Linked DNA regions of Homo sapiens: region 2 is linked to region 1. Evidence: fine-mapped expression QTL. A gene starts in region 1. The other region holds a variant in brackets. All regions are shown on one strand. Distances are between the middles of the regions. Region 1 holds the start of CDC25A (cell division cycle 25A). Region 2 holds the start of LOC124906234 (a long non-coding RNA gene).

What was found.
Region 2: its variant is fine-mapped to the expression of CDC25A in whole blood (TOPMed, PIP 0.91).

The regions. Positions count from the first base shown.
Region 1 is chr3:48,184,329-48,194,533 of GRCh38, forward strand. It overlaps CDC25A (cell division cycle 25A), which reads right to left and starts at 4,089. Exons shown (of 15, transcript NM_001789.3): 1 at 3,450-4,089; 2 at 2,375-2,451; 3 at 325-367. The coding sequence starts at 3,619. RefSeq lists an enhancer at 3,174-3,802 and a silencer at 3,546-3,755.
Region 2 is chr3:47,593,271-47,603,475 of GRCh38, forward strand. All of the region lies in intron 26 of SMARCC1 (SWI/SNF related BAF chromatin remodeling complex subunit C1), which reads right to left. LOC124906234 (a long non-coding RNA gene) reads left to right here and starts at 6,953. Exons shown (of 3, transcript XR_007095902.1): 1 at 6,953-7,013. The variant T/C (reference allele first, on the strand shown) is at 5,006.

The DNA.
Region 1 (10,205 bases):
CGGCAGAGTGAGACTCTGCCTCAGAAACAAACAAACAAACAAACAAAAAAACCCCACATGTTCTTGTAAGGCTATGATGTCAGAGCACAGAGTAAGGGTTTGGGTAAGACCCAAACAGAACACCAAAATTATAGCTAAAATAAAGGAGAAAAAGTTCTGAAAATTGCTGACACAAACTATTCATTCTTGAGATTCCAGAGTGTTTCTAGGCACAGGTAAATCCAGGGCTCCAGTCCAGTGTATGAAGAACTTCATTTAAATAAGGTATTTAAGTTTAGACACGTTTTTTCTACATATAAACATTTGAAAGCAGTGAATACATACTTTTCTTTACTGTCCAATGGCCCAGGAGAATCTAGACAGAAACCTATGGGGAAAAAAAAAACCTCTCAAGAAATAATACAAAAAACACCATTTTGTCATTAAAATTAAAACACTAAACAAAGTACCTGGGTCTTTATTTAAGTCAGGCAACAAATATTCATGGCTTGTACTTTTGCCAGAATTGATGTTACGTCTATTAGATTGTCAAAAATGTCATGTTTGTACAAGTCTTAATATTTTCATAGCGTATTTACTGTTTTTTCTCCTATTTGCAAATAACATCAAGGGAAATAGGATTTGAGAAGAGGGTGAATAAAACTGATTCATATCATGATTGTTTGGTTATTCAGATAGAGGTGACCCAGATAACTTTCTGTGAGTTCCAACCATAGAAACAATAGGTACCAGATTTTCTTGGCATAGTTTTTAAACGTTTTACCTTGTCAAATCATATGAGGCTTGAAAAATACAACTACTGACCAGGCACAGTGGCTCACACCTGTGATTCCAATACTTTGGGAGGCTGAGGCAGGCTGATGGCTTGAGGCCACAAGTTCAAAACAAGCCTGGGGCAACATAGTGAGACTTGACTCTACCAAAGTTAAAAAAAAAATTAGTTGGGTGTGGTGGCACGTGTCTGTAGTCCCAGCTACTTGGGGAGGCTGGAGTGGGAGGTTCGCTTGAGCTCGGAAAGTTGAAGCTACAGTGAACCCTGATTGTGCCACTGTACACCAGCCTGAGACCTGGAAAACAGAGCAAGACCCTGTCTCAAAAAAAAAAAAAAAAAAAGGCCAGGTGCAGTAGCTCACCCCTGTAATCTCAGCACTTTGGGAGGTCGAAGTGGGTGGATCACCTGAGATCAGAAGTTTGAGACCCACACCTGTAATTCCAGCTACTAGGGAAGCTGAGGCAGAAGAATTCTCTAAATCTGGGAGGCAGAGTTGCCTGGGTGACAGAGTTGAGACCTTGTCTCAAAATGAAAAAGAAAAATACAACTACTGGTCATGACATGCAAGGCAAGCACTTGCTGCCTTTAACAAAATGACACCAAGGTGTCCATCTCACAAAAGGCAGCAGGGTGAAGGAGACACTGTTCAGCATTACTAATATGCCAGCTCAGATGACGCAGACCCACCCACCCATAGCTCATGTGTCTATACAGCCTTATGGAAAGTGAGGTGTTACAGCCCTTGCTCACCACACTGCTACAAGTGATAATCCTATCCCCAGTTCTATATTAAATTACATTCTACATACAGAAGCCTACATTACATTTTAAGACTTGCTCTTGCAGTTCCTTTAACCTAAAGGATCTTTGCACCAATGGTCTTATCTGTACAAATACAGATAAACTCTGCAGTAATATGAATTCATGAAGAATGAAATGCACTGGCAATTTCCTCCATAGCAGCATCACTGAAATGATTTCATGACACTGTACTTCCAATCATTTGATCCTGTATTTTAACCAGTAAGATTGCCTGAATGCCACTTACAGTGGTATGGTGAATTATACTTTACTACCCATCCTTCAAGGGCAAGCACACACCACCTCCTTATAGACATTTGAAACCTATTTCCTTTCTTCATAAACAGCCACAAGGGCTCCTTTGTATTGTTCTCAATAATGTTTATCACCGGGCGCGGTGGCTCACGCTGTAATCCCAGCACTTTGGGAGGCCGAGGAAGGCGGATCACCTGAGGTTGTGAATTCGAGACCAGGCTGACCAACATGAAGAAACCCTGTCTCTACTAAAAAATACAAAATTAGCCGGGTGTGGTGGTGCATGCCTGTAATCCCAGCTACTCGGGAGGCTGAGGCAGGAGAATCACTTGAACCCGGGAGGTGGAGGTTACAGTGAGCTGAGATCATGCCATTGCACTCCAGCCTGGGCGACAAGAGCGAAACTCTGTCTCAAAAAAAAAAAAAAAAAAGTTTATCACCCAATGCCATGACTTCCTCAAGTTCTCACCAAAACTAACCTCCTGGGTGAAAAGGCATGTTTCAGGAAATTCAGAGTATTGCTCCCCACACAGCAGACTTAAATACCTGAATCTGTTGACTCGGAGGAGCCCATTCTCTGCAGATTACTGTTGTTCTTCACCTCCAGTGGTTGCTCATAATCACTGAAACCAACAGAAATAAACCATGAATGATTTATAGGATATAATTAAAAGGTCACATGCAGGAGATAGGCCATGAGATTAAGAAGCAGCCAGGCTGCCAGAAACCATTTCTAGGCCACACCACAAGTGGCAAAGATCCCACTTTGCCACTCTGAACACCCAATTAGCACTTGGGCAAAGGAGAAAAAAGGAGTGGGTGGGCATGGCCTTGGACCACATTGCAGGTTATGATGGCTATGGCAAATGTTGGGGTATTTCCTAAAATAAAAGCATGTGTTCTAAGTACTGAGACAGAGTCGGGATGAAAGTTGAACAGGACACTTTCTGCTTTTCAGAAGTTGGGAAACGCACAAGACATGTGCTTAGCAAACGGGATGCCAGAGATTGAAGGGAAAGTAGCTCTTCCGCGGGAAACACCGTGGGATGCATTTTTTGCTATCAGGAAAAGCCCAGGAAGCTTTCTGAAAGTTGGGTAAAAAGACCTGGCCTTAGGAAAGCAGCAGAGTGGACATCAGGAATGTGCACAGGGCGAGGGACTGAGATGATTTTACATAAACGCCAGGAAAGAAAATGCCATGGTCCTTTGTTGAGAAGGAACAAAGATCACAGCAAACGAAGATCCTGAGGATGGTTTAGCAAAGGGTGAAAGTGAGTGCCTAGAAGAGCCTGATTTTCCCCGCGGGGGTAGATTCCAAAGAGCTTCCAGGGATAGAGATAGAAGGAGAGTACGGAGCAATCCGAAAGGGGTGAAGGTGGGCCTGGCTCGGGCTTAGGCCCAAGGATCTCCACCTCTTCCCCTGGAAGGTCCCGACGGCCTCTCCCGCCCAACATTCCGCCCGGGCGGGGGTGCACATGGCAGGCCCTAGCCCGGCTGTCCCCGAGCGGCGAACCCGGACGGACGGGTCTCGCCCTTCTCCCGGTCCGTTTCCTGGCCTGATCTCTCCGAGGCCGACACCGAGGCCAGGGGCCCGGAGCACCGCCCGCCGGTCTCTCCTTACCTGCCCAGACCCTGCAGCTGGTCCATAGTGACGGTCAGGTTGGTGACAGGCGACAGTCCCCCGGCGGCTGAAGCGCCAAATAGCGCCTTCACGACGGGCTGCGACGCGGGAGGGGGGCTGCAGGCGAAGAGCAGGCGGCGGCGGTGCGGGGGCTCCGGGCCCAGTTCCATGGCGGCGCCCGGCCTCGCAGAGCTCCCGCTCCCTCTTCCTCTGCCTCCGCCGCGACCGCCCCGCCCCGCCGACACCGGCCTCGGCCGCGCGCCACCGGCGCCCGCGGGTCAAACACAAACACGACTCCGCGGTTCAGGGACGCGGCTGCCGCGGGCAAGCGGCGCGGCCGGGCGGGTGTGCGGACCCTCCAGGCGCCAGCCACCAGCCACAGGCACGGGTGCTTCCCTCTCACACCGCGAGGCCAGCGGGCGGGCGGGCGCCGGCAACCTGAAGATTAAATCCAAACAAACGTGGCGGGTCGGCAAGAGAAGCCGGGCGAGAGCCTCGAGGCAACGGCCCAGGCTCACGCTGTCTTCGCTGTTCTCCCACCCGCTTGCCCAGCTCCGGGTAGCAGAAAACCAAGCCGACCTACACCTCTTACCCAGGCTGTCGCAGCCAGGCCGGCCTTTCGCGGTAATAGCGGCTCAGTGGGGCCAGCTGCTGCCCCGCCCCCCTTTCCTAGTTGGCGCCAAACGGAATCCACCAATCAGTAAGCAACTTCTCCTCCTCTCAACCGAATGGCAGCTAGGCTGGGCCAATGAGAGGGGAAGAAGAAAGCGGCTCGCGGGACTCTGCCAGGTCATCGGCTCTCAGAAGGGGGCGGAGCCCAGAGCAGAAGAGCGGGGATCAAAATGAGAGGGGGAGCAGAGGTCAATGAAAACTCCCAGCAGAACCTGCGAGGCGCTGCTCGCGGCTGAAAGGCCCCTTTGCCCCGTCGCATGCTGGGAAGCGTAGTTCCCATCGCGAGCTGCCGTCCAGTTAGCTTCGGCCCCCTTTGGGCCTCCGCTACCTCGCCCCCAGCCGGGCGCCCCACACTCTGAGGCAATGTGGAGGCTAAGGAAGACCTGTGGAGGTCTGGCCGGATCCAGCCTTGGCTCGGCCTCTAACCGTGCAGTATTGTGGACCCCTTTCTTCCGCCCCGGGCCTCCAGGCCCCATTTTATAATGAGGGAGGGAATGCAATGACCCCCAGGACTGGACTCGACCACCAGGGCCCAACTCTGGAGGGCTCACAGACCCTGGGTGCTGCTGGCCTCATGGGATTTGAACCCCGCAGTACAACCTGTGCTGTGGGCCTCAGCATTTTTTGCTCACTTCCATTCTAGCCCTTATTGGATGCTCTTAGAATCATTTCTTTCTTTCCCACCACTTCTTAGCCCCCTGGGAGCTCCTAGAGAGAAATAACAGCAAACACAATAATAGCAAATAATAGCTAAAGTTTACATAATGCTTATGCACTTGACACTGTTCCCAGTGTGTTAATCTGTATTAATTCATTTAATCTTTACAACTCTGTGACATAGGAATTATCCCCATTTTCTAAGTGGGCATATTTACTTTTACAGCGCCGAACCTGTGGCAGCTCCTAGACGGATTTTGAGGGCCATAAGTGCATGATTTAATTGCAACCTACTGCTGGGCTTAGTGGCTCACGCCTATCATCCCAGCACTTTGGGAGGGCGAGGTGGGAGGATTGCCTGAGCCCACGAATTTGAGACCAGCCTGGGCAACAAAGTGAGACACCCCCTGCCCCCCACTCAAAAAAAAAAAACCCTACAGTTTGAAAAGCCATGCTGGACAGGTGGAAACCCCAAACCTTTGGCCCCAACACCAGACCCTTCACAGTGAGGAACCTCTCTCTCAGGATTCATCTCCTTTTCTGTGCACCAGTGCTCCACCACCCAGGAACCTCCCTTCCCTCCAGAAACCCCAGGCTATTTAGGCCTCTCTGCACAGTTCACATGGTCTGTGGTCCCACTGTTTCAAATAGTTCTCCCTGTCGTATCTCTGAATACTTTCCTCTCCTCCTGTGTTTTATGTGGTTTAATACTTGGCTCAACAGGCCGGGAGCGGTGGCTCACGCCTGTAATCCCAGCACTTTGGGAGACCGAGGCGGGCGGATCACGGGGTCAGGAGATCGAGACCATCCTGGCTAACATGGTGAAACCCCGGCTCTACTAAAAATACAAAAAATTACCGGGCGTGGTGGCGGGCGCCTGTAGTCCCAGCTACTCGGGAGGCTGAGGCAGAAGAATGGCTGAACTCGGGAGGCGGAGCTTGCAGTGAGCCAAGACCGAGCCACTGCACTCCAGCCTGGGCAACAGAGCGAGACTCCGTCTCAAAAAACAAAAACAAAACTTGGCTCAACATTCCTGTTACTGCATTCATTCATTCAACATATGTTTATTTAAGGATTACTAGAACAAATTCAGTGCTTGAAATAATACCACAATCCCTGCTCTCAGGGAGCTCTGGTCCGCTGAGCATAAAGCTCCTTCTAATAATGGAATTATTACCATGACAATAGCTGTGGTTTGTGGAGGGATGGTGGGCACCTAGAGGAGGGGCGGGGACTGGGGAAGGCAGTACGGTGGGGGGCACGTCCTAAAGGAGATTAAAACTAAAGGTCAAGGTTGCTGGAGAAGGGGAGCTTGGGGCTGGTGGGAAGTGCTTTCTAAGGAAACGGCCCTCGGCAGCCAGGAGGTGAGGAGGAACGCCGTACTTGCCGGGAGCTACTCCTGAGTTGATCCAGTCGGTTCTAGAATGGGCACATGGGACTGGCTGTGAGGGACAGTTCTTGAAAGGATTGGAGTTTGCTGAAGAGTTTGGCCTTATCCTGTGGACAGTGGAGGGTGTGTGATAACCGGATCAGATTTGCTTTAGGGTGGATCAGTGGAGGAGAGTGGGGAGGCCTGAGGAAAAAGGAGGTGGCTGTCTCAAAAGTCTGGGAGATTCTGAAGCAAGGTGGGGGCCTTGGAGACAAAGGAAGGGAATGATTCTGTGAGCCCTGAAGGAGGTAGATCTCATCAGATTTTGATAATTGAGAGTTAAGATTGTAGGGGGCTAGAGGGAAGGGAGGAGGCTAGAATGATTCTTAGGTAATGATTCAAGTACCTGGGTGGATGTAACATTTCAACAATTGGAGGCATACTTCTTGGAGGAATTTGATGAGCTCAGTTTTGTGCTGGTGGACTGGCTGGGGGGTGTAGTCAGGAGGCAGATTTGGTGTTGATTAGCATGAAGATGGTAATGCCCATTGAGGATGTACAAAGGGTTTTTAGGACCCTGGATCTGGGGAGCACCAGCATTGAGGACTTGATGTAGTGAGACAGGACCGCAAAGCTGGGGCTGAGATAGAAACCACAAGGGAGTAGCCGAGTCCATAGTTCAGAGGTGCACCCAGGAGAGTCACTGAAGGTGGCCAGAATGAGGTCACAGGCAACTATGGAAATCATGTAGGAAGGCGAGGAGGTGGCCACAGAAGGCCATGGGAAGGGAAAAGTTGGCACAGAAGCTACAATACAGTTCAAGTGTGCCAAAATGCATGTACACAAATATTCATGGCCATGTTAATCATTTTAGCTCCAAACAGAAAGCAACCCTAATGCCCATCAACAATAAAATGGGTAAATAGAACAAAGTTATTTTATACAGTGATGAAAAGGACAGAAGCGCTACCCACAGTAGGAGTGAATCTCACATCAATGTCAAACATAAGAAGGAAGACACAAAAGAGAACATGCTGTTTAGGTCTGGCTCACACCTGTAATCCCAGCACTTTGGGAGGCTGAGGCAGGCGAATCACTTGAGGCCAGGAGTTCGAGACCAGCCTGGCCAACATAGTGAAACCTCATCTCTACTAAAAAAAAATATATATATATATACACACACACACATATATGTGTGTATATATACATAATATACATACATGTGTATATATACATAATATACATATATATGTGTACATACATATACATATATATGTATATATACATATACATATATATGTATATATACATATACATATATATGTATATATACATATATACACACATATGTAATATACATATATACACACATGTAATATACACAAACATATATATACACACATATATACATACACAAAAATTAGCCATGTATGGTGGTGCACAACTGTAATCCCAGCTACTATGGAGGCTGAGGCATGAGAATTGCTTGAACCCAGGAGGTGGAGGTTGCAGTGAACCGAGATTGAGCCACTGCACTCCAGCCTGGGTGACAGGGCGAGACTCCGTCTCAAAAAAAAAAAAAGTTAGTTATGGTACTAGTTACCTTTCAGAAAGATGGTGGTGACTGCAAGGGGCCATGAAGGGGATATTGGCAACTGGTCATATTCTGTTTCTTATTTATTTTTCACTTTTTGAGACAGAGTCTTGCTCTGTGGCCCAGGTTGGAGTGCAGTGACATGATCATGGCTCACTATAGCCTCGAACTTCTGGGTTCAAGTGATCCTCCCACCTCAGCTTCCTGAGTAGCCTGAACTACAGGCATGCACCCATAAACCTAGCTAATTAAAAATTTTATTTTTTATTTTGGCTGGGCATGGTGGCTCACGCCTGTAATCCCAGCACCTTGGGAAACCGAGGTGGGTGGATCATGAGGTCAGGAGTTCGAGACCAGTGTGGCCAACATGGCAAAACTCCGTCTCTACTAAAAATACAAAAAATTAGCCGGGTGTGGTGGCACACGCCTGTAATCCCAGCTACTTGGGAGACTGAGGCAGTAGAATCACTTGAACCCAGGAGGCGGAGGTTACAGTGAACTGAGATCATGCCATTGCACTCCAGCCTGGGCAACAGAGCAAGACTCTGTCTCAGAAAAAAATATATGTATAATTTTAGAGACGGGAGTCTAACTATGATGCCCAGGCTGGTCTCAAACTCTCGAGCTCAAGCGATCCTCCCGTCTTGGACTCCCAAAGTGTTAGCATTATATGCATGAGCCACTGCACCTGGCCACTTTCCATTTCTTGATCTGGGTGCTGGTTACCTGAGTGTGTTCACCTTGTGGAAATTCATTGAGCTACACACTCAAGATTTGTTAGCTGTTCTGTATGAATGGTGTATTTCAATGAAATGTTTATTATTAGTGATAAAAAGCCTTTCCTTGATGCCACTTTCCCCTCCAACTATATTCATTCCTTCCCTTCACAGTAAAACTCCTGGCCGGGCACAGTGACTCACACCTGTAATCCCGGCACTTTGGGAGGCCGAGGTCAGGAGTTCAAAACCAGCCTGGCCAACACGGTGAAACACCATCTTGGCCGGGCATGGTGGCTCACGCCTGTAATCCCAGCACTTTGGGAAACCGAGATGGGTGGATCATGAGGTCAGGAGTTCAAGACCAGCCTGGCTAACATAGTGAAACCCCATCTCTACTAAAAATACAAAAAATTAGTGGTGCGTGGTGGTGGGCACCTGTAATCCCAGCTACTTGGGAGGCTGAGGCAAGAGAATTGCTTGAACCTGGGAAGCGGTGGTTGAAGTGAGTGGAGATGGCACTACTGCACTCCAGCCTGGGTGACAGTGCGAGACTCCCTCTCAAAAAAAAAAAAAAAAAAGAAAAGAAAGCCCCATCTCTACTAAAAATACAAAAATTAGCCAGGCATGGTGGTGGGCGCCTGTAATCCCAGCTACTCAGGAGGCTGAGGCAGGAGAATTGCTTGAGCCGGGAGGCAGAGATTGCAGTGAGCAGAGATCAGGACACTGCACTCCAGCCTGAAAGACAGAGCAAGACTCCCTCTCAAAAAAAAAAAAAACCCAAAAAACAAAACACAGTAAAACTCCTCAAAAAAGTTGTCTCTAATTTCTCTCCTCACATTTTCTCTTGGACCCACTGTCATCAGACATTGATTTTCCCCACTCCATGGAAGTGGCTTTTTTTTTTTTTTGAGATGGAGTCTCACTCTGTCGCCCGGGCTGGAGTGTGGCAATCTTAATTCACTGCAACCTCCGCCTCCCACCTCCCAGGTTCAAGTGATTCTCCTGCCTCAGCCTCCCGAGTAGCTGGGATTACAGGTGTCCGCCACCACGCCTGGCTAATTTTGTATTTTTAGTAGAGATGGGGTTTCACTGGCTGGTCTCGAACTCCTGACCTCAAGTGATCTGCCCGCCTTGGCCTCCCAAGGTGCTGGGATTACAGGCATGAGCCACTGTGCCAGGGTGGAAACGGCTTTTGTCAAATTCTCCGGGAACCTTCATTTTGCTGAATACAGTGACCAATTTGCAGTCCTAGCTTTACTCCACCCAGCAGCCACCCATCATCCTCACTGCATGCTTGGCCACTCCTAGAAACATTCGCTTTGCTAGGTTTTCAGAGCACCACTCTCAGATTTTCCTCCTCTCTCCAGTTGCTCCTAAAAAAGTAAAAAAAAATGATGCCGTGGAGAGGTCATGATGGAGGGAAGCTATTGGCCTCTGAAGGTGGGAAGCAGGCATCCAGGCATAGCAGGAGAGGCCGGCCCTGGACTTCCTGCAGGAGCTGGGAGCTCCTTCGGGGCACTATGGTCCCTTGTTCCCAGCAGCAGCATAAAGCCTGGCTCATGGCGACAAGGAGAAATGTTTGTGGAGTGAATAAAGAATAAGACTTTGAATGTTATCCTGAAGGCAGTGGATTTAGAAAGAGTCTCTGAGAAGCCATCATTCCTCCCCTCCTTTTCCCCATGGAAGATAGACTGGATTATGGCTTGGGGTGGTGAGGTGGGTTCCTAGGGTTCTTTTCTCTTCCC
Region 2 (10,205 bases), 590 kb before region 1:
AAGCAATTCTTCTGCCTCAGCCGCCCGAGTACCCGGGATTACAGGTGTGCGCCACCATACCCGGATAATTTTTGCATTTTCTGTAGAGACAGCGTTGCACCATGTTGCCCAGGCTGGTATTGAACTCCTGACCTCAAGTGATCTGCCCGCCTCGGCCGCCCAAAGTGCTGGGATTACAGGCGTGAGCCACCGCGCCTGGCCTGAAATTTTTTTATGTAGGACAAATTATATTCTCTACAGAATAAGAAAAAGAGAATCAATGTAGTTTTTCTTTAAATCTAGGGACTTTACTATCTATGTAAGGACAACTATGAAACTGAATATAGGTTAGAAGACAGTACTGAGACAGCTAGAAATAAGAATGCTTAATCTTGAAAAATTTGGAGATTGGACCAAATTACAATACACAAAGCAGTACTGAAGATAATTCAAATACAGACTCTCTGTCACTATAGAAAGAGGTCTATCTAAACAAAGACATACAAAGCTTCAAACCACACCCTGCCTATCTCCAGTGGCTGTTCCTTGATCTAAGAACCTGAGAGAGGAGCCCCTTACTTCAGGGGTGTCAATGAAGAGAACTACAATGAGGTATGAGAATTAGGAATAAGGGGCTGGGCACAGTGGCTCACACCTGTATTCCCAGCACTTTGCGAGGCCAAGGTGGGTGGATCACCTGAGGTCAGGAGTTCGTGACCAGCCTGACCAACATGGTGAAACCCCATTTCTACTAAAAATACAAAAATTAGCTGGGCTTAGTGGCATGCACCTGTAATCTCAGCTACTTGAGAGGCTGAGGCAGGAGAACTGCTTGAACCCGGGAGGTGGAGGTTGCAGTGAGCCAAGATTGCACCATTACACCCTAGCCTGGGCAACAAGAATGAAACTCCAAAAAAAAAAAAAAATAGGAATTAGGGTAGTCCAGTCTTCTAGGGACTACTTTTTAAAGCAAAGTACATCAACATTATGACCCAGAATGTACATAATAGAGAATTTTGGGCCCTGTGGCCCATCTTTCTGCACTCTATAATGTAACGCAAAGCCTAGCAGAGGAGTCTCAGAGATCCGCTTGCTGGAAAATAACTTGGTCAAATCACTTTGGCAAAATCAAGAGCAGCTGCTGGATCTACTCCTATGTGAACACTGCGACTAGGACCAACTGACCATCATTAATTTTTGTCTTTTTGTGCTTGTGCCGTGTATCTAGGACAGAAATAGGCAGTGTTGAAGAGTCTGCCAATCTAGGGACTGATTCAGGATAAAAGGGACAAATGGCAAGAACACTAAAGGCATACGAGGGATGAGTGCACATAAAGGAGTGAAAGGCAAACCAAGGAAAAACTATGGAAGGAGCAAGCCAAAAAAAATGAAGACTTTCCAGCTGATCAATAAAAATTTGTGAGTAACTTGGAATTGTGGATGAGATGTAAGTAAAGTGAAGGAAAGGGATTAGGGATAGGACTAATCCTAAAAACACCTGGGACAGCAGGGACCCAAGGACTCAGGCATCCTTGTGGCGGGACTGTGAGGCCACATGCTTGTAGATCCACAAACCAGTAAGAAATAATAGAAATCCTGGGTGCCTTGGCCCACCCCCAGGGGATATGCTGCAGCACAGCAGGTAGACCTTGATAAGATCTGCATACCTACATCCCTACAACCCATCCTGACTCCTGCTGCCACTCCTCTATTCTCCATCTCTGACCTGTTGTTGCAGGAATGTTACATAAGTGGAAGCACCGTTTGCAACATTTTGGGATTGGTTTTTTTTCACTCCAGGTAATTTCCTGGAGAGTCACCGGTTCTGTATGCAGCCACAGGCTGTTCCTCTCAGTGCTGGGTGGTGCTCCCTGCTGTGGATGGACCACACAGCCTGAAGAGGACATCTGGCGGTTCTCACTTTTTGGCTACTATGAATAATCTGCTAGGAAAGTTTGTGTACGGGTTAAAAAAAATTTTTTTTAAACACATGGCCAAGCGGGCGCGATGGCTCACGCCTGTAATCCCAGTACTTTGGGAGGCCGAGGCGAGATCACCTGAGGTCAGGAGTTCGAGACCAGCCTGGCTAACATGTTGAAACCCCATCTCTACTAAAAATACAAAAAAATTAGCGAGATGCGGTGGTGGGCACCTGTAATCCCAGCTACTCGGGAGGCTGAGGCAGGAGAATCGCTTGAACCGGAGAGGTGGAGGTTGCAGTGAGCCGAGAATGAGCCATTGCACTCCAGCCTGGGCAACAAGAGTGAAATTCCGTCTCAAAATAAATAAATAAATAAAATAAAATAAAATAAAATAAACACACAGCCAAGCCTAAGTTAAAACAATCAGAAAATAATGTTAATGTCACTCCCATTATTACTGAGAGGTACCATTTATATGCAGCATCTATATAAATACCATACCCTTTTGTGGTACCTTACTATCTTTCATCTGTATTACACCGAGGCTTATAAAGGTTTCTTTTTCTTTTTCTTTTTTTTTGAGACGGGAGTCTCACTCTGTTGCCCAGGCTGGAGTGCAGTGGGGCGATCTCGACTCACTGCAACCTCTGCCTCCCTGGTTCAGGTGAGTCTCCTGCCTCAGCCTCCCGAATAGCTGAAACTACAGGCACGTGCCACCACGCCCAGCTAATTTTTTTATTTTTAGTAGAGACCGAGTTTCACAATGTTGGCTAGGAAGGTCTCAATCTCTTGACCTCGTGATCTGCCTGCTTTGGCCTCCCAAAGTGCTGGGATTACAGGTGTGAGCTACCAAACCCGGCCAGGTTTTTTTTTTTTCTTTCCCAAAAACAAAAACAAAAACAAAACAAAACAAAACTGCTGGGTCTGTCATGATTCAAAGGAAAAAGGGCTATATTAATTCAAAAAGGAGTCATGCATGTAGAACAAGGGGTGAGGACTTCAAAAGTAAGGCTACAGAGGACTTAGTGAAAGGTTCTGAAAAGAAGAGAAGCTTGAACCTAATTTTCTGTGGGATGGAAAGCAATTTTTTAGAAAATGTTTAAGAGATGGAGTCTTGGCTGGGCGTGGTGGCTCACGCCTATAATCCCAGCACTTTGGGAGGGCAAGGCAGGTGGATCAAGAGGTCAGGAGTTCAAGACCAGCCCGGCCAAGATGGTGAAACCCCATCTCTACTAAAAATACAAAAATCAGCTGGGTGTGATGGTGGGCACCTGTAATCCTAGCTACTCGGGAGGCTGAGGCAGGGAATTGCTTGAACGTGGGAGGCGGAGGTTGCAGTGAGCCGAGATCATGCCACTGCACTCCAGCCTGGGTGACAGAGTCAGACTCCGTCTCAAAAAAAAAAAAATAAATAAATAAATAAGAAGAAGAAGAAGAAAAAAGATGGGGTCTTGCTACGTTGCCCAGGCTGGACTAGACCTCCTGGGCTCACGTGATTCTCCTGCCTCAGCCTCCTGTGTAGCTGGGGTTACAGGTGCATGCCACCATGCCCAGCTAGGATAGAAAGCTTTAAGAAGGGATGCAGAGGAGTTAGTGCCTAGAGCAGAGAAAAAGTGCCTTTGCAGAGAAGTATGGGCTGAATGTCAGGCTGATGAGACAGAAAGGAATAGGAGATGGAGATGGCACTCTGCAAGTTCCTTCTTTTTTTTTTTATTTTATTTTTTTAAAAGAGATGAGGTCTTGGCTAGGGGCGGTGGCTCCTGCCTGTAATCCCGGCACTTTGGGAGGCCGAGGCAGGCAGATGACGAGGTCAGGCATTTGAGACCAGCCTGACCAACATGATGAAAATAAAAAAATTAGCCAGGCGTGGTGGCACGCACCTGTAATCCCAGCTACTAAGGAGGCTGAGGCAGGAGTTGCAGTGAGCTGAGACTGCGTCACTGCACTCTAGCCTGGGCGACAGGGCGAGACTCAGTCTCAAAAAAAAAAAAAAAAAAGAGAGAGAGATGAGGTCTTGCTCTGTCACCCAGGCTGGAGTACAGTGGTATGGTCATAGCTCACTAAAGCAGTGAACTCCTGGGTTGAAGTGATGCCCCCGCCTCAACTTCCTGAGTAGCTAGGATTACAGGTGTGCACCACCACGTCAGCTAATTTATTTATTTATTTTATTTTTTATTTTTTAATTTTTTGAGACGGAGTCTCACTCTGTTGCCCAGGCTGGAGTGCAGTGGTGCAATCTCCGCCTCCCGGGTTCATGCCATTCTCCTGCCGCAGCCTCCCGAGTAGCTAGGACTACAGGCACCCGCCACCACGCCCGGCTAATTTTTTGTATTTTTAGTAGAGATGGGGTTTCACCATGTTAGCCAGGATGGTCTCGATTTCCTGACCTCATGATCCGCCTGCCTCGGCCTCCCAAAGTGCTGGGATTACAGGCGTGAGCCACCATGCCCGGCCCACGCCAGCTAATTTTTTATAGAGATGGGGCCTTGCTATGTTGCCCAGGCTGGTTTCAAACTCCTAGGCTCAATGATCCTCCTAACTCAGTCTCCTGAGTTGCTGGGACTATGGGTGTGAGCTATTGTGCCCAGCCACAGGTTCTGTAAAAAGAGGCATCCTCGGGATTGGAGACAGAGCAAGAAGGAAGGGCGAGCATGGAGCTGAGATGGAAAATGAATTTGGGTTTGGTATCTGACTGCTGGGAGTGTGAAGATGGGATGACGTGAAGAGGACACAGAACTTTTTGCTTTGGGAACAGATGTAGGCTGGGCAGCCATATAGTGAAATACAGAGGTATCGGTGAAGGGAAGGTATAGAACTCCCAGAGTTTCAAATAGAGCAGTGGCAAACAGAGACTTACTATTCTAAGATTCTCCACAAACTGCCAAAGAGGCACCTTTGTTTTTAAGGTGGTACTGTCCCAGCTCCCTTTTGGAAGCCCTTTTTTTGTTCTCTTCCTACCCCACATCACCTGCTAGGCCATTAATAAAAGCAATGCTTTGTTTTCCACACTCTAAATCACTACTAATGATTCTCTAATGGTATTCTAGGTGGCGTGAAGGACAACAGGAGATGATTTTGTTGCTGCTGGAAACAGGAGGCCTACT[T/C]TTAAAACTAAAAAGTACAATATTCTAGCCTGCAGACGAAAGAACACTCCTAATGGACTTGTTGTGACAAAGGGAAGCCATATACTAGGAGAAATAATGCTGCCCATGTTTATCAACAGGTACAGGTTGCTCGCTTCCACCAAGTCCGACCTGGACAGAGGCCTTAAACAAGTTAGGAAGAACATATTGCCGCCCTTCACAGGTCTCCTCCTCTCTCTCTCAATCCCTGAGCTTTGGTTTCCTGAGATTTTATTGATTAAAGCTATGTATGTGGCCCAGTGCAGTGGCTCATGCCTGTAATCCCAGTACTTTGGGAGGCTGAGGTGGGTGGATTACTTGAGGTCAGCAGATCAAGACCAGCCTGGCCAACATAGTGAAACCTCGTCTCTACTAAAAATATAAAAATCAGCTGTGTGTGGTGGTATATGCCTGTGGTCACAGCTACTTGGGAGGCTGAGGAGAAGATAGTTTGAACCTGGAAGGTGGAGGATGCAGTGAGCTGAGATCACGCCACTGCACTCCAGCCTGGGCTACAGAGGGACTCTGTCTCAAAAAAAAAAAAAAAAAAAAAAAAAAGAGAGAGAGAGACACACACACACACACACACACACACAGAGACAAAGACAGAGAGAGAAGAAGGTGATGTAAAGATGGAGCAAAGAGAGACGTGGCCGTAAGACAAGGAATGCTGCAAGCCACCGGAAGTTGGAAGAGACAAGGAACAGGATTCTTCCCTATATACCTTGGAAGGAGCATGGCTTTGCTGGATATTGGACCTGATTTCCCAGAGAGTAAGAATACATTTCTCTTGTTTTAAGTTATTCTGACAGGCTGTGCGCAGTGGCTCACACCTATAATCCCAGCACTTTGGGGGGCTGAGGAGGGCGGATCACCTGAGGTCAGGAGTTTGAGACCAGCCTAGCCAACATGGTGAAACCCTGTCTCTACTAATAATACAACAATTAGCCAGGAGTGCACATGCCTGTAATACCAGCTACTTGGGAAGCTGAGGCAAGAGAATCACTTGAACCCGGGAGGTAGAGGTTAGAGTGAGCAGAGATCACACCACTGCACTCCAGCCTGAGCGACAAAAGCAAACTCTGCCTCAAAAAAGTTATTATAGCAGCCTCAGGAAACTACGTAGGAAACATGTGCTATGCCTTAGGCACTATATTTAAGAGTTTTATAAATGTTAACTCATTCAATCCCCATAACAACACTATAAACCAGGCACTATTATCCCTGTGGAAGAAAGGGAAGGACACAAAGATTAAGTAGCTTGCCCAATGTCATAAAGCATGTAAATGAGGGAGCTCAGATCTGATACAGGTACTCTGATTCTAGAGATGGTGCTTGCAGCCAGTGTGCACCCCTGACAATCAAGGTCTGGGGGAGAGGGGTCCAACAGGTGCTCAGAGACGACGTGATGCAAACCCTGGTGTCACCAAACTGATTGATCCATTATTTGCCCCATGCTCAGCTCCAGACAGAAATTACTTTCTGAACCCGCAATTCAGAATATATGTTCCAGCAGAGAAATCAACTATTCAAGAAATAATCTGGCAAAGAGGAGCATCACTGGCTGATTGACAAACACCCACAAAGTGATGTCTACCTATCATGCACTGGGAAATGCCTGCAGGCTCTTGCTCTTAGGCCCAGTAGTACTATTTCCAAAGCTATCTGCTCAGTGGCAGTGGCCCATTTACCTATTACCCTACATCTTTATGAATACAAGCTGGAATAGGGCAGCTTTAGGGTTTTCCAAGGCTGTTAGCCCAACAGCTAAAAAAACCTTTCTTTTCATTTATTATAAATTCTAAAGCCTTGTGAAAAAGATTCTTTATCCTATTGTCACAAACAAGGTCATAAAGCCACTGGGATACAGGTGTTCTGAGTATGAGAGGACAACGGCTCCTTGGCAGCAAAAATGAAGGTCTAGAGGAAAAGCAATTTACTTCTGCTTATGGCACCCTGCAAAAACAAACATCTCTCAGGAAAGCAAGAGGTACCTAAGAGTGAATGATGTCCCTTTGCCATTCAGAGGTTCCTTCTGTCAGATGCTAAGCAACTCAGCACTGGTGTACCTGGGGCAGTGGGTTTAGAGAAAAGACAGGAAAGGAGGTAAGAATAAGGTTGAGTAAGGGTTGACCGTGCCAGGTGATTTGACAGTTATCTCTCTGAAGTCTCCAGGTTGTTAGTAAGATGATGGTAAGGGCCTAGTTTTGAGATAAGGAAACTAAGCCTCAGAGAAGCTATGTAATTTGGCGCAAAGTCACAATGAACAAGAGACTGAGCTGAGATTCAAATCCAGGTCTCTCTGACCCTGAGGTCCATTCTCTTTTCCTTTACCCCACCTTCCTTTCTAAGGAGTAACTTTCCCCTTAGAAAAGGTAACTTCCAAGGATGAAATCTGAAATGGGGTAGAATTTAAGAAGACTCAGGAGAAGACAAAATCAATTTCGCACAAAGCAACCCTTGTCCTTAAGAAGTCTAAACATCTTTATGGGTTTTTGTGGTGTCTGATATAGGTCTCACCACTTTTAAATGAACAACAGTGTCTGCATTTCCATTAATTCTTACTAACATTAAGAGATCTGGCCCACACAAATCTGAAATGCATAGGAACAGGCCTTAGCAAACAAAGTAAAGGATGTATGTCTTTTCCATTAAAAAAAAAAAATCAGGTATTTTTTCCCAGCAGACAGGGAGAGGAAGAAAATGAGAGAGAGAGAGAGAGAGAGAGAGAGAGAGAGAGAGAGAGAGAGAGAGACATGGCATCAAAACAGCAGTATCAAAAGCTTAGAATGGTGGGAGTCTGACCTACATACAAGCTTTTTTTCTTTTCTTTTTTCTTTTTTTTTTTTAAACAGCAGGCATCTGAAGCCTGAAAAATTAAAAGCTTTGCTAAAATTAGGTTTAACTAGTAGAAAAATCCCTCATTCTCTCTCAGGTTTATTGTATCTTTTACTAAAGCATTACACTCATGACACTTAATGGAATATTAGTAAAGGACCTTAATTTTATACTTTGGGTTGGGAAAGGAGGGTAGGAAAAGAAAGTGAATCTAGGAAAGGGAACCTGTGAATTTCCAGTCTTGAGCACATTTCATCAATCCATTTCTAACTGTCTATAGCACATCCTCTGGCTGAGTCTCCTGGAGAATGGAAATAACAAAATCAGGGCCAAGTGAGGGGAAGCCCAGGCTCCTCAGAGACTGTGCCTTCCCCACAGCAGCTTCCTGGGGATGCCTGTGACAGACTCTCTTTGTTGAAGACTGGGCCCTCACTGTTCTCTTTGTGAGGGTAACCTGCTACTCCGGAAAGTAGCATGGCTACTCCGGAAAGTAGCATGTAAGTAGGACCAAAGGCACCGCAGATAATAAAATCTTGGCTGATGTGATGGGCTACGGCTTTTTTTTTCTTTTTTTTTTTTTTTGAGATGGAGTCTCACTCTTGTCGCCCAGGCTGGAGTGGTGCAGTGGTGTGAACTCGGCTCACTGCAACCTCTGCCTCCTGGGTTCAAGCGATTCTCCTGCCTCAGCCTCCTGAGTAGCTAGGATTACAGTTGCCTGCCACCACACCCGGCTAATTTTTGTACTTTTAGTAGAGGTGGGGTTTTGCCATGTTGCCCAGGCTGGTCTTGAATTCCTGACCTCAGGTGATCCACCCACCTCGGCTTCCCAAAGTGCTAGGATTACAGGCATGAGCCACCATGCCCGGCCAGGCTATTGCTTTTCTTTTTCGGTGTGGGGTTGAGTCCAGGGGTGGGTTAGAAAGTGGTGATTGGTTGTAATCCTTTCCTGAGCTTTATTTCTCATGAGGTAGGGTTGTGTAAGTAGGTGTGAGGGGCTTAAAAAGCCAACTGTAGCTGGGTGTGGTAGCACATGCCTGTAAGTCCCAGCTACTCAGGTGGCTGAGGTGAGAGGATTGCTTGAGCCCAGGAATTCGAGGCTGCAGTGGGCCATGACTGCACCACTGTACTCCAGGCTGGGCGACACAGCAAAACCCTGTCTCAAAAAAAAGTTCCAGTTTTTTTAAAAGACAGGGTCTTGCTCTATCGCCCAGGCTGGAGTGCGGTGGCACAATCTTGGCTAAATGCAGCCTTGACCTCCTGGGATCAAGTGATCCTTCTGCCTCAGCCTCCCAAGTAGTTGGGACCACAGGCACACGCCACCACACCAAGCAAATTTTTTTTATTTTTGTAGAGAGAGGGTTTCACCATGTTGCCCAGGTTGGTCTCGAACTCCTGAGCTCAAGCAATCTGCCTGCCTTGGCCTCCCAAAGTGCTGGGATTACAGGCGTAAGCCATCATTTCCAGCCCATTCTAGTTTTAACATTAGAATACCATTGTATTATGTCTGAGTTCTCATCAAATCAGACCAATTCTATTCTGATTTTCAAGGCACTTCCAAAAATTCTTCCACTATTAATAATGAGGAAACAATGAAAATATTTAAATCAAACATGTTCTTTCCTTCTGCTTTCACACATAGAGTACACACGAAGGCTTCCCCAGTGCAGGCAGCTGACTTAAGATCCATGAGGCAGGAATGTTCAAGAGTGCCTCATTTATTACAAATGCCTAGGACGGGCTGGGCCTAGTGGCTCAATCCTATAGTCCCAGCACTTTGGGAGGCCAAGGCGAGAGGATCGCGTGAGCTCAAGAGTTTGAGACCAACCTGGGCAACATAGTGAGACCTTGTCTCTACTAAAATACATCCATGCCTATGGAGAGCAGAGCTTACCACTGTAATTATACACTAGATTTCTGTCATTTCCTTCTAACTTAATGATAGGTAATCTTCCTTTAAACATGTGCTGAAGTTCCTACAGTCCTGACCATCTCAACTTAAAGGAGATCCCGCCGGGTGCAGTGGCTCACACCTGTAATCCCAGCACTTTGGGAGGCTGAGGCGGGTGGATCACCTGAGGTCAGGAGCTCAAGACCAGCCTGGCCAACATGGTGAAACCCTGTCTCTACCAAAAATAAAAAAATTAGCTAGGCATGGTGGCAGGTGCCTGTAATCCCAGCTACTCGGGAGACTGAGGCAGGAGAATTGCTTTAACCTGGGAGGTAGAGGTTGAGGTGAGCCAAGACTACAAAATTGCACTCCAGCCTGAGTGACAAGAGCAAAACTCTGTCTAAAAAAAGAAAAAAAAAAAAGGAGATCCCAAGCAGTCAGAGGTGCCCTCCTGCT